Linked DNA regions of Homo sapiens. The protein of the gene in region 1 purifies or fractionates together with the protein of each later gene. This does not show direct contact. Each region holds a gene or a part of one and is shown on either strand. Other genes may lie near its edges.

Evidence for each region.
Region 2: the proteins of SERPINB4 (region 1) and METTL13 purify together in Homo sapiens (affinity purification with mass spectrometry; 3 studies listed by BioGRID and IntAct, with this or other methods). This does not show direct contact.

The regions. Positions count from the first base shown.
Region 1 is NC_000018.10:63,636,697-63,641,485, forward strand, and holds the end of SERPINB4 (serpin B4), read right to left. Parts: intron 4,296-4,789; coding exon 4,178-4,295; intron 3,081-4,177; coding exon 2,938-3,080; intron 2,645-2,937; coding exon 2,489-2,644; intron 1,428-2,488; coding exon 1,023-1,427; 3' UTR 563-1,022; downstream 1-562. UniProt on the Homo sapiens protein: May act as a protease inhibitor to modulate the host immune response against tumor cells.
Region 2 is NC_000001.11:171,776,436-171,784,686, reverse strand, and holds the start of METTL13 (eEF1A lysine and N-terminal methyltransferase), read right to left. Parts: upstream 3,028-8,251; 5' UTR 2,720-3,027; coding exon 2,567-2,719; intron 948-2,566; coding exon 188-947; intron 1-187. UniProt on the Homo sapiens protein: Dual methyltransferase that catalyzes methylation of elongation factor 1-alpha (EEF1A1 and EEF1A2) at two different positions, and is therefore involved in the regulation of mRNA translation.

The DNA.
Region 1 (4,789 bases):
CTGCCAGGCAAATCCATTTGAATATTAAAAGTACCTTAATTCATCAAGTACAAATTTAAACCCAAAGTCTTTTTTTCTCTCAGAAACAAGATATTCTTCCATCCATCCAGTCAGATAGGTCAGCAACTTAGATGTCTTTCTGTAACTATTATTTCCTAAATAATTCCCCCAGGCTCTTTCTTTCTCTCCATTTCCACTCCCAATACTCTAATGATTTCCTAATTTATATATGGTAACCACACTGTTCTTTCCTCGCATCCATTGATATCAGCGTAGCCAGAGATGTATTTTCTAGATGTGGATATGATAATTTTATGCCCCTCTTTGACAAACAACCATCAAAGCCTGTAATGAGTTTCTTATCCCTTTAGCATAAAATAGGAAGTTCCTATGTGGTTTACAAGGCTCCTCCTGTTCTGGGATATGCCTTCTACTCCAGGCTCATCATGAACTACTCTGTTTTTAATTTTCCTTTATATATGATTAATATATCTCTAAATTATCTTTCCTATGTGTAACTGGACACTTGCCCTTTCCAGAGAGAAAACAGGTAAAGCAAAAATGATTTTATGTCATTATTTTATTGATGATGTGTTTTATAGAATCACAAAATTTAGAAACATAAGAAGGATTTAGGTATCACCTAAATTCAAAGAAATGTGTGTTTCTAGGTTGCTAAATTTGAAGAGAAAGTATGATTTGGTTTGGTTCATTTAAAACAGGTCAGAAACAGAATTATATTTCAAATTTAGAAGACACGGTATTAAATGATTCATCTTATCTTGGACATTTTTCCTCAAGGGAAATTTTTCTGGAAGGAAAAGTACATTTATATGTGGGCTTATTAAGAGAAAGAGAGAAAGGCATGCTATTTTAATCATTAAATTCTTGATGATGACTATCATCATCAAGATGAGATAGAAAAGAAATATGAGCCAAGAGAATCTGTTGTTGCCAGCAATCAGTTTACCAGAACACCTCTAGGTGAACATTTTCTAAATGGAGTGACAGACTAATTGCATCTATGGGGATGAGAATCTGCCATAGAAGAGGATGCTGTTGGTCTTATTTTGCCTTATGAAGAATAGGAAAGGGTGATTACAACAGAACTCTTCATTAGTTGAAGGAGATGATAATTCGACTACTACTACAGCGGTGGCAGCTGCAGCTTCCACTCCCTCCTCAGTGACCTCCACAAAGGCCTTGTGTAGGACTTTAGATACTGAGAGACCGTGGCTCCAGGTCATGCCTGAGAGGTCTGCATCCCCATTGAAGATATTCACCATTCCCATGGTTCTCAACGTGTCCTTGAGGTCATAGCTCTCTTCCATTTTGAACCGAGGTAAGTGTAAATCGACACATGTCTCTCTCATATTCTGCAAACTTGTCCATTCCATCAATTTCTCAGCAGTGAGTTTCTCTTCAAGCTATACAAATGGAAAAAAGAAACTGATATGACTAACTGTCGATCTCTAATACACCTTAACAATGAATTGACTATGTGGAGATTCGTTATTTTGGCAATAAATGTGAAATACAGAAGGTTCACTTTAATAGACATTATTATTCTAATAGGTAAAATATGAGTCCTGAATATATAAATACATTGGGTTATATGTGTATATGTATATACATGTATGTAAAAACAGAATCATGTTTTTACGTATATGTATATGTGTACATATGTATGTATACAACTGTATGATACACATGTAAAATATGATTACATTATTTTGTACACAATGAACTGTATGTATCACTATTTCTTGTGCCAACAGCCTACTACATGTGTCAATTTTTAATAGGCTCATCATATTTTTCTGTATACATTATTTAGTACACATTGCAATTATTAAATTGTAATTCCCTAAATTCCTAAATTTGTATTCCCTTTTCTACTCGGCCTATTTGTAAACTTTCCTCACATTGGTATATATTTCTCCCAGTCAAGTTTAAATTGCTGCATAATAATATCATCAAATTGATATCCAATGCATGTAACTCTAATAAATTAATCATTAACTAAGCCATAGATGGAATTAAATCATAGATGGGAATTGAACAATGAGAACACTTGGACACAGGAAGGTAACATCACACTCTGAGGACTGTTGTGGGGTGGGGGGAGGGGGGAGGGATAGCATTAGGAGATATACCTAACGCTAAATGACGAGTTAATGGGTGCAGCACACCAGCATGGCACATGTATACATATGTAACTAACCTGCACATTGTGCACATGTACCCTAAAGCTTAAAGTATTATAATAATAATAATAAAAACAAACAAACAAACAAAAACTAAGCTTTCAGTTTGTGTCAGGCCCTATGCTCAAATATTTGTAATATGAAGGTGAGTCATCATTCCTCATTTAGAATTTTTCATCATTTTGAGGCAACTCGGTCATAAGCTTTTACCTTGTTTAAACTTGGTATCTTTGGAAAAATGTCCGGCAGTAGAAGGAAGAGTTGTAGATGCAAGTTCTTACCTTCTGCAGACCATCGATTTCATTTGGCAGCAGCACAATCATGCTTAGATCTTTGCCTTTGTATGGTATTTCCAGGACCTTGGCCTGTACATCCTCCAGCAAGGCAAAATTAAAGGAATTGTATTGCCTCATCATCTGTACAGATTTGTATGTATTCTGCAATAAATCAATGTGTCCAACAAATAACACGTGAAACACAAGACAAAAAAGATAATATTATTGAGATAGCAACACATCCTTCTTCTTCTAAGAAATAACCCAGGAATTCCATGAGTTAGAAACAATAGTTTTTCAGGTATTCCTAACTAAATAAAGTTATAAGAGTAAAACAACAAAATAACAGACATGAACAATTTTTATTTTTTACTTATCATGTTACATTCCATCAGAAATGTTTAACATTCCATGTATTAACATATTACACTATATAAATAAAATATAGACAATACCTTGTTTGGCCAAAATTTTTCCTCTTTAGTGTTTTCTTTTTTAAATTTATTCTCCCACTGCCCTTTGAAATAGATTGCGTTCACAAGAACCAGTGTCGTATCATTGCCAATAGTCCCATCAGGAAATAGGTTTTTAATTTTTTCTGCAAGGGAAAGAATAAAAGAGTCTTTTACACAAGCTACAAATGGCTTGTCTGGAAGATGCTTTGCAAATGTTCGTGACTGATCGTTAATTATTGACCCAAATCCCTGCTTGAGACTCACTGACTTTGATCTTTGAATTGTTAGACTCACTGACCAGTGGTTCACCAGATGCAGCTTTCTTCAAGGCTCCAGTCGTATAAAGTTACCCTTGATGGAGACATCACTTCTTGTGATAGAGAAGGAGTTCACGTTCTCTGTGTATGAATGTCTCCAATCATCTGATTTGGAATACTGATAAACTGATTTTGTCTACTCTTCCAACATGTGTCTTTCCTTTCTCCCTCCCTCCTCTTCCTACTTTTATTTTTTTTTAACTACGGGGTCCCCATTCAGAGGAAGGAGGCCCTGATTGCATTTTAGGATGAGTGACTTGAGCTCTGTAATATGAAACGCATGTCCTGTGCTGTCAGACACTACTTCCGGGGGTATCTTCCTATTCACTCTCATGTTGAGTTGCTGTAAGTTTGGCCTGTAATGAGAGGTGGGAGGTAAGAAAGATGTCTGTAGAATGGAGACTTTGTCAAGCTCTTTGCCCTTGATGGGGAAGAGAGCTGTGATAATCCCTGCAGAACACATTGGCTACAGATGTGATCCAGGCAGCTCCAGCTCAGAGACAAAAGGGTGATTTACCAGAGAGCTGCTTGTTTCCCAATTAGTAAAGGAGACGAGAGACGCTTTCTAATGTTTTCTATTAAATATTCATCATAAAAATTTGAGTCTGATTTAAAGTAAAGGATATGATCTCAAAATAGGCCTGAGCGGAGACAGGGGATCCACAAAGCTATTGTCATGCAGGGCCATAAGCAAATAATTCTCCAGATGTGTTTCCATCTAATTGGCTTCCTGTGATTTCCTCCTTGGCTCCCCTAGGCTCTCTTCATATTCATTTGGACAAATCCTTCATCTGGAGTGCCCTCTTCAGCCCTCCCTGCAAACCCATCTCAATCCCCACACCTGTTCCCCCATGCAGTGTCAAGCACAAGGCTCACTGGCATAGGTTTCTCAAAGGTGTTTCTATAATGGGTGGCTCTCCTACCATTCGTTTGACTTTCCACCCAGGAGTTAATCTTCTTTCGACTTTCTTCTGGAGCATTTGCAAAATCAGTAGATTCCACACTGGTCTGGTAAAATTTCTTGATGGCATCTAAATATTCCTTTGAGATATGAAGGAAGAAGTAGGAATTAGGAGTAATTTATGTAACTATATATTACCAAACTTACTTATTTGTAACAACAGTAAGCTGAATCCAGACCCTGAATAGATGCAGTATCTCCTGTCCATGGATATTTTTATACAGGTGTCATGTAGGCAATGCAAAAGGGGAATGTGGGCTGGCACAAGAAAGAGGTCACTGAAGGTCAATATCATCTTGGCAAAAGGCAGAAGCAGAAGAGGCTGTGGTTTGCAAACTGCAGAGCAGGCTTCCCTGAAGGAGATTCATTGCTTCTCAGACTTCTCTCCAGTAATTTTAACCATGATGTTTCTGATCTTTGTTTTTGTCTTTCATCCTGTGCATTCAATATTTCCTGGTACTTCCTCAACTATTCTCAGGAACTCACCCAAGCCTGCCCATTCCAATAATATCCCATTAGTCATACATTTCCCACCAAGATGTATCGTATGTGACTGAGTCAGTGCCAGTTTATC
Region 2 (8,251 bases), on another chromosome or scaffold:
GAGCTATTACTCTCCTTTCATCATGCCTTGGGTAGTCTAATCCTCTGGAAGTACAAACCCCTGCAAGACAAAAAACAGTCCAGAATCCCACCAAAGCCCCAGCCCAGCCTCAGCCCCAGCCCCAGCCCAAGCCCCAGCCCCTGTAAGCCAGCCCCTCCAGGGAAGAGAGGGAGCAATCCCAACTCACTGATGAAAATCGCAAAATGATTGTCCCGCGATGGTTTCACAGTGGGGCTGTCCACCACGTGGAGGGTGTAGCGTGGCTCCCCCGTGTCCCCATCGCACAAGTCCAGAGACACACTCCCCAGCCTGGCCTTGCGGCGCAGCTGGCTGCACAGCCAGGCATACTGCTGTCGCTCCTGCACCGCCTCGGCCAGCCGCTCGGCACTCTCCAGCCGCACAGGCTTGCGCTGCTCCTGAGCACACAGCTCAAAGATCTGAAGGGCAGAGCCAGGGACTGGCCTGAACTTGGTCATGATGAAGGCAAAGACAGGCAAGGAGAACTGAGGCTCTGCTTCCAACACCTGGTCCTGGCTGTTGGCCACTTGGTGCACCCTCACCATCCACCCCTCCCGGGAGAAGTGGCCCACTGCTTTCTTCAGGATGTGAGCCTGAGCCAGGGAGATGCAGAGATAGCGACCGCCCACCTGCAGGACACGGCCAACCTCAGCCAGCATCCTGTCCACCTGTTGTAAGGTCTTCTCTTCCTCATCTGTCAGGACAGCATCCAGGGTGCCCTTGTCCAACACCACCTGGAACGAGGCATCAGGAAACTCCATCTGCGTCATGTCCATCTTCAAGAAGCTCATCTGGGGCCGTCGGGTGGCATTACATTCCTTCATTTGCTTGATGACAACCTCACTGATGTCGATGTTCACTATATCCCGATAGCCCACATCATACAGTTGCTCACTCAGTTCTGAGTTGCCACACCCAATCACCAGCACCTGGAGAAAAAATTCACAGACAAGAGGGAGGTAATCAAAGCAAAGGACTGTACTTCAGGTACTTCAAGGAATCAAGTCTCACCTTGGCTGAGTCACATTTTCAGAAGGTGGAGACGCTACTGCCAGAGAAAGAGCGACATTGTAGAGTTGATGCTAGACTCTATCTTGAAACACCACATATACTTGCTAGTGAAAACCACATTCAGCTACAATACAGGTTATATGAGAATGGGCTTTGTGTTGCAGAAACAAATTAATCATAACTGTTCTTTTCTCTAAATCATGCACTTATTACTCAGGAATTAATAGGAAGTCAGAGAATCCAAATATAGAGTTACAGTTGAAATCCTAGGCCAGGAATAACCCTATTTCCTCACTCTACTCATGCCTTTGGCTCCTTTAGACAATAAAGTACACTTTGTGAGGATTCAAATCTTACTTCCATCACGGATTCCATCTCATGATATTTGGCTATCTTCTGAAGCCGAACTTAAAATTCAGATTGTTGTCTCCCTCTCCAGGGAGCAATCTCCCATTCAAACTTAGAAATTCTGATATTGCCATCTTTGGAAAAGCATGGTACAAAGAGATGTGCATATGCTCTGGAGCCAGACAGGCCTGAGTTTAAATCCCCACATGACCACCTGGACATGATCTTGGGCAAAAAAAAAAAAAAAAGTGGCTCTCGGGGCCTCAGTTTCCTCATCTGTAAAATGTATGCATGGCCACTCACCTGAATTTATGATGAGAATTCAAAGATTGCACATGCACATACACAGCACCCAACATAAGGCTTGGCACATAAAGCTTCCCCACAAATGTTAAGTTTTCTACCTTCCTCCTTCCCTACCTCCAGTACAATCTCACCTATACCAAACCCATTGTTGTACTTATCACGTTTCACTTCTGGAACATGTGCAGGGTTTACGTCTTAATGCTCTTATAGTTTAAGGACTGAGCAGTGCCTGAAACTTGGGGCGCACTCAACGACTATTTGAAAAACAAATTCATACACAAAGTCACACCTGCTGCAGGTTGCACAGGAATGCACAGTGACAGAAGAACATACTTTCAAGATGGGAAGTCACTCTTCAAGTAGGGTTATTAATCCAAGAATGAGCTGGGGTGGGAGGTCTATTATCTGAAAACCTTTAAAGAAATGTTTTTTTTTTTAGACAGGGTCTCACTCTGTCACCCAGGCTGGAGTGCAGTGGCGTGATCATGGCTCACTGCAGCCTCGACCTCCTGGGCTCAAGCGATCCTCCCGCCTAAGCCTCCCGAGTAGCTGGAAATACAGATGCGCGCCACCACGCCCGGCTAATTTTTTCATTTTTTGTAGAGACGAGGTCTCATGTTCCCCAGGCTGGTCTTTAACTCCAGGGCTCAAGCGATCCTCCCACCTCGGTCTCCCAAAGTGTTCGGATTACAGGTGTGAGCCACTGCGCCCGGCCTGAAAGAATATTCTAGTTTGTCTTTTAGCAGGAACAATGCAGGAAATGCTGAAATATGCGTCCAACTAGGGTCCTCCCGCCTGTCACTGTCCACCAAGTGCAAGATTCCTGTTACCAGTTCCCACCTTCCGGAGCACGTACGAAGGGCTACCAACCCGCGCTCCTCACCTTTTCCCTGGGCTTGATATATTTATGTAGCACCCCGCACAGTTCCAGGTAGGTTCCATACCACTCGAAAGCTTTCTTTCCTCGCTGCTGGAAGAACTTCTCCCAATAGTCAACGGAGCCAAACTCCCTGGAACTTTTAGGTAAGAGGTTCATGTTCCTACTGCCGAAGCTGCGTTTTCAAGACTCCCCTATTCCCTGTGAGATACCATTTGAGGAGCTTGCCCACCACACGCAGGCTCCGGGACACTGCAGTGGGAATTCTTTCCACGGAAAAACAGCCACATTGATTTGTTCCCCCACTCCAAACCCCAGGAATGACCCTTACACGACAAACGCACGCATGGACCACTGAATCTCACACACGCTTGCCCCCTCCTCCGCGCCTGCTGTTCCTTCCCCACGTGAAGAGCCCCTCACACTTTTCCCGAACTAGATTTCCGAGCCCATAACCATATCCGGGTGCGAAGCCTCGTGATTCGTCGGCCGGCCCAGCCCAACTCAGCTAGTCATTGGTCGCTGCTTTGCGTTTCTATCACCTCATTGGCTGCGACGTGCTTGCCTTTCTCCGGAGGCTCCGTCGCAGACACCTAAACGCTTTTTTGACCTGAGGCCGGCCGACCATTCACGGAACGGGGCGGGACCGCGGGCCGGAGTTGTGGCGGAAGAGGCCGGGCCTCTGTGAGAACTAGGTCACGTCCGGGTGAGGAGTGAGCGCGGCTGTGCTGTGGTTGGGCCCTCCCTCCAGGCGGGGCGGAGAGCGCGCTTGCTTCCTGGGCTCGGCCTCCGCTTTGTCTTGGAGCCGGCTTAATCACTGACTCCGATCGTGCGCCGCACAAGGGCGGAGCGCGGCAGGCGGGAGCGTACTGGTAGAGGAGGACGAAAAGAAAAACCTATACAGATAGGAGAGAAGTGAGGCAGGAAATGAGTAAAGCCAGTCCGTCGTAAAAACGCTGCACATTCTAACCTTGTCAGCTTCTGCGCACCAGCACCCCCCGCCTTATTTTGCCACCTCTGCACCAAAATATAGGATTCTGCTATCAAAAGTGTAATAACATGAAAACTCCCTCTTCCTTCTCTCCGCAAAGCACAGCATGCAAAACTAGCCTTTCATTTTGATAATTGGCCTCCTTGTGTTATTCTGACGTTATTTATAACTGCTTATTTTATGTGTTTGATAAACATACTGTACTTTCACATGCTCATGCTAATACCCTGAGGAAGCTTCTGTGAAGGGCACTTTTTTTTCAGACAGGGTCTGTCTCTGTCGCCCAGACTGGAGTGCAGTGGTGCAGTCATGGCTCACTGCAGTCTCCACTTTCCAGGGGTCAGGGGATCCTCCCACCTCAGCCTCCCAAGTAGCACGCCACTACCGCTGGCTAATTTTTTTTTTTTTTTTGTAGAAATGGGGTTTCGCCATGTTGTCCGGGCTGTTCTCAAACTCCTGAGCTCAAATGATCATCTCGCCTCACCCTACCAAAGTGCTGGGATGACTGGTGTGAGCCACTATGCTGGCAGGCACTATTTGAAAATGACCAAATATGTGTATCACTGGGCCTTTCATACCATGATAAATTGCAGGAGGAATATACTGATTGCGGAGAGCAGATAGGCTTGGAATTGAGCATGTGTGCTGTGGGCTGTTACATACTACACTACCACAGGTAGATAGCCAGGTAGACTGTTAATAGTTAAGTAGGTTAGATTGGACTTAAACATTGGTTTAAAAAAGTGATTCTCAAACTGGCATGCGTCAGAATCACCTGGAGGACTTGTTAAAACACAGAATTCCCCAGTCCAACCCCTGTTCTAAGTCATTAGTTCAGTGGTGAGGCCCAAGGATTTGTGTTTCTAACAAGTTCCCACGATGCTGATGATGTTGGTCCCGGAACCACACTTTTTTGAGAACCACTGTTTTAAAATACAATTAAGTCAAAATGGATATGGTTCAAAATTCGCAATTTTCAATGATAAATCTAAAAGCTTTCTACAAGTAACATAAGAGAAAATCTGTTTTCATGATCCCTTTGCTGAGTTCACATTGTTCCTCTCTACCCAAGATAAAGAGAAGGAGTCCTTGAAGTAGTAACTTCAGCTACTACACCATGCAAGGTTCTGAATGGGTGAAATGTGAGTTCTTTAGGAAGCACTTATTGAGAGCGGAGGACATCACTTGTACTGAATGTGCTACACGATACCAAAGAAGCAAAACAGCATAGCAGCCAGGCGCGGTGGCTCACGCCTGTAATCCTACCACTTTGGTAGGCCGAGGCGGGCGGATCACTTGAGATCAGGAGTTTGAGATCAGCCTGGCCAACATGGTGAAACCATGTCTCTAATAAAAATACAAAAATTAGCCGAGCGTGGTTGTGTGTGCCTGTGGTCCCAGCTACTCAGGAGGCTGAGGCAGGAGAATCGCTTGAACCCGGGAGGCGGAGGTTGCAGTGAGCCAAGAGATTGCGCCACCGCACTCCATCCTGGCCAACAGAAGGAGACTCCCTCTCAAAAACGACAACAACAAAAACAAACAAAAACCATAGCAGCTGCTCTGTGCCCCCCAAAGCTTTATTCAATTCAGTTCAACAAATATTTTAATTGTCTAATAGGGGCCAATCACTGTGGTAGAAGCTAAGGATGCAGTGGTAAGCATGGTAATCACGTGGAGGGCACATTAAACAATTACAAAAATAGTCTGTAATGGGAGTTATAAGTGCTGTGAAGGAGAACCATACCATTCCATGATAGTATATCTTTGTGACCTCTACTGATCTAAGGGGTAACCAGAGAAGGCTTCCCTGAGGAAGGGACAAAAATACTATATAATCTGACTGCTTAATATCAGCATGACATAGGTGAAAAACCAAAAAGCATGGTTCACCTTCTGGAACCTTTACAAGAATTTCTGGCTGCTGCTTTTCCCTCTGTCTCCATTGTCTGTTCTGTTAAGGTCATGTTATTAGAAAAGACGAAGTTATTTCTATCACAGCCCAGGCTCCAGCCCCGTATTTGATGCTCTAAAAGTATGATTACTGTTTGCAGTGTTTTTCAGACCAAAAGGGTAAGTAACTTACGTTTTTCCATCTGTGCCTGCCTCCCTTCTGTGAGCCTAAAAAAGTGATAACAACCAGAACATTTTAAGCTTAAACATACTAGAGATTTTCTAAAATTGTAAGATTAACACAGAAATATTTTAGATATATTGTAACATTAGACCCTAGCATTAACCTTTCAAAATACTTATTTGAAGCTTATTTCTCTCAAGATTTAACTATGAAATATAATTGATAGGTATGTGTTATCATTAGTATACTTAGTTAATTTAAACCAATAAGATGTTAAAATGCTTTGTGTTTTATTAGGATCCCCAGAGTGGTTAAAAATATGATTTAAAATGCAAGCTAAATTTAGATAAAGCCATTCAGTATTGTGGAGTTTTTTCCTAAAAATATAAATCCAGACCTCTGGATATATAATTTACAGTCAAACTTACTTAATTGAAACATTCTCATAATTGTGGTAATATTCAATTGATTGTTACTACGATTAATTGTAAAATAATAAAGAGGGAATAAAAAGCATCTCTGACAATTTGGGAGGCAGAGGATGAGAGAGGCAAAATAATGCTCCCCTAAAGATGTCTACCTCCTAATCCCCTGAACCGAAACTGTGAAGGTAACAGGTTACAAGGCAAAGAAGAATTAAGGTTGTAGATGCAATTAAGGATGCTAATCAGCTGACATAGCAAGATTATCTAACTGAGCTCAATGTAATCACAGGGTCCTTTTTCATTTTCTTTCTTTTTTTTTTTTTTTTTTTTTGAGACGGAGTCTTACTCTGTTGCCCAGTCTGGAGTGCAGTGGCACGATCTTGGCTCACTGCAACCTCCGCCTCCCAGGTTCAAGCAATTCTCCTGCCTCAGCCTCTTGAGTAGCTACGGATTACAGGCGTGCACACACCCAGCTGATTTTTGTATTTTTAGTAGTCTCACCATGTTGGCCAGGCTGGGCCACAAGGGTCTTTTAAAGTAGAAGAGGGAGAGACAGAAGGGCTTGGCCCAATGTTTCTGGCTTTGAAGATGAAGGAAAGCAGCCATGAACCAAGGAAAGGCGGTGACCTCTAGAACCTGGAAAAGGAAAAGAAATGAATTCTCCTGTAGAGCCTCCAGAAGAAATACGGCCCTATTGACACCTTGATTTTAATTTATTGAGACTTGTCAGACTTCTGACTGATCCAACTGTAAGATAATAAATTTGTATTGCATATAGTACTAGTTTTTGGTAATTTGTTACAGTAGTGATAGGAAACTAATACGGAACATAAACAGAAGAGAGAAAGAGAGAGAGAGAGTATGTGTGGTTGGGGCAGAAGGTCACAGTGGGGAGAAAGCAGCAGAAGATACAACTAGAGGCTGAGGTAAAGGGCAGGTTTTGAGGAGTCTTCTATTCCACATATTTAGCTTCAGCCTGTCAGGCCACAGGAAGTCAACAGAGAAGCAGAGTCATGACAGAAAGACCTGATCTGAGAGATGTTCTCAGGAAAGACTGAGGCACTTGATGACTGATTGAATAGGGGGAATAAAAGACTGAGGGACTCATAAATGACTCCTACATCGGCCTCTGGATGACTGAAGAAATAGTCTGTAGAAAGAAACGGGGAAGGAGAAAGGGGTATTATTTGTAGAACTGTTGCTAGAAAAGAATTTAGAGGTTATCACTCCAGTAAAAACCAGAGCCAGAGCTAAAAGCCAGTCTCCCCACCCTGCATGCCTACCCCAGGGCTCATACCCTTCTCACTTCCTGTCAGTGGTATCCAGTTGGAGTTGGTAGGTCCAACACATGAAAATGTTTCACGAGTGGGATATAAAATTAAGTAAAGGGAATGTCTCTTTGGTGTACAGGGAGTGGCTCATATAATGCTGGAAACTATTTCAAATTGGAAATCATCTTAGCAAATGGGTTTGTTTTCCACATTTGAGAAGTTTAAAAATGAATGTTCTCCTGTATCTTGGGATAATAGAAGGCAGACACAATAACATCCTAGGGTAACATTCTGCCATTTTATTAGCTGAGTGTCAACACTTTTCTTGACGATATTGTTGACCTGAAAAGTGACTATCAAGCTGATATTGGATTCCTAAGATTGGGATGATGATAATAGCTACTTATTTATTTATTTATTTGTTTGTTTGTTTGTTTATATAAGACAGGGTCTCACTGTGTCACCCAGGCTGGAGTGCAGTGGTGCAGTCACAGCTTACTGCAGCCTCGACTTCATGGGCTCAAGTGATCCTTCCACCTCAGTCTCCCAAGTAGCTGGGACTACAGGTACGAGCCTCCATGCCTGGCTAATTTAAAAAAATATATATTTTTGTAGAGACAGGCTCTCCCTATGTTGCCCAGGCTGGTCTCAAACTGCTGACTTCAAGGGATCCTCCCACCTCAGTCTCTCAAAGCGGTAGGATTACAGGTGTAAGCCACCATGCCCAGTGCATCATAGTATTTTTTAGTTTGTATAGCACTTGTGATTGGCCAAGAATTTTTCTCATACACTGAATCCATGGGAAGGAGAGGCTCAGAGCTACAGAGTTAATTTTCACATTGGCAGAGAATCCCTTTGGGTGAATGTGCCAGCCTTGTACAAGATTAACAAATTCGTTTCAACATAGATGATTACACACTGCTTTCTTAA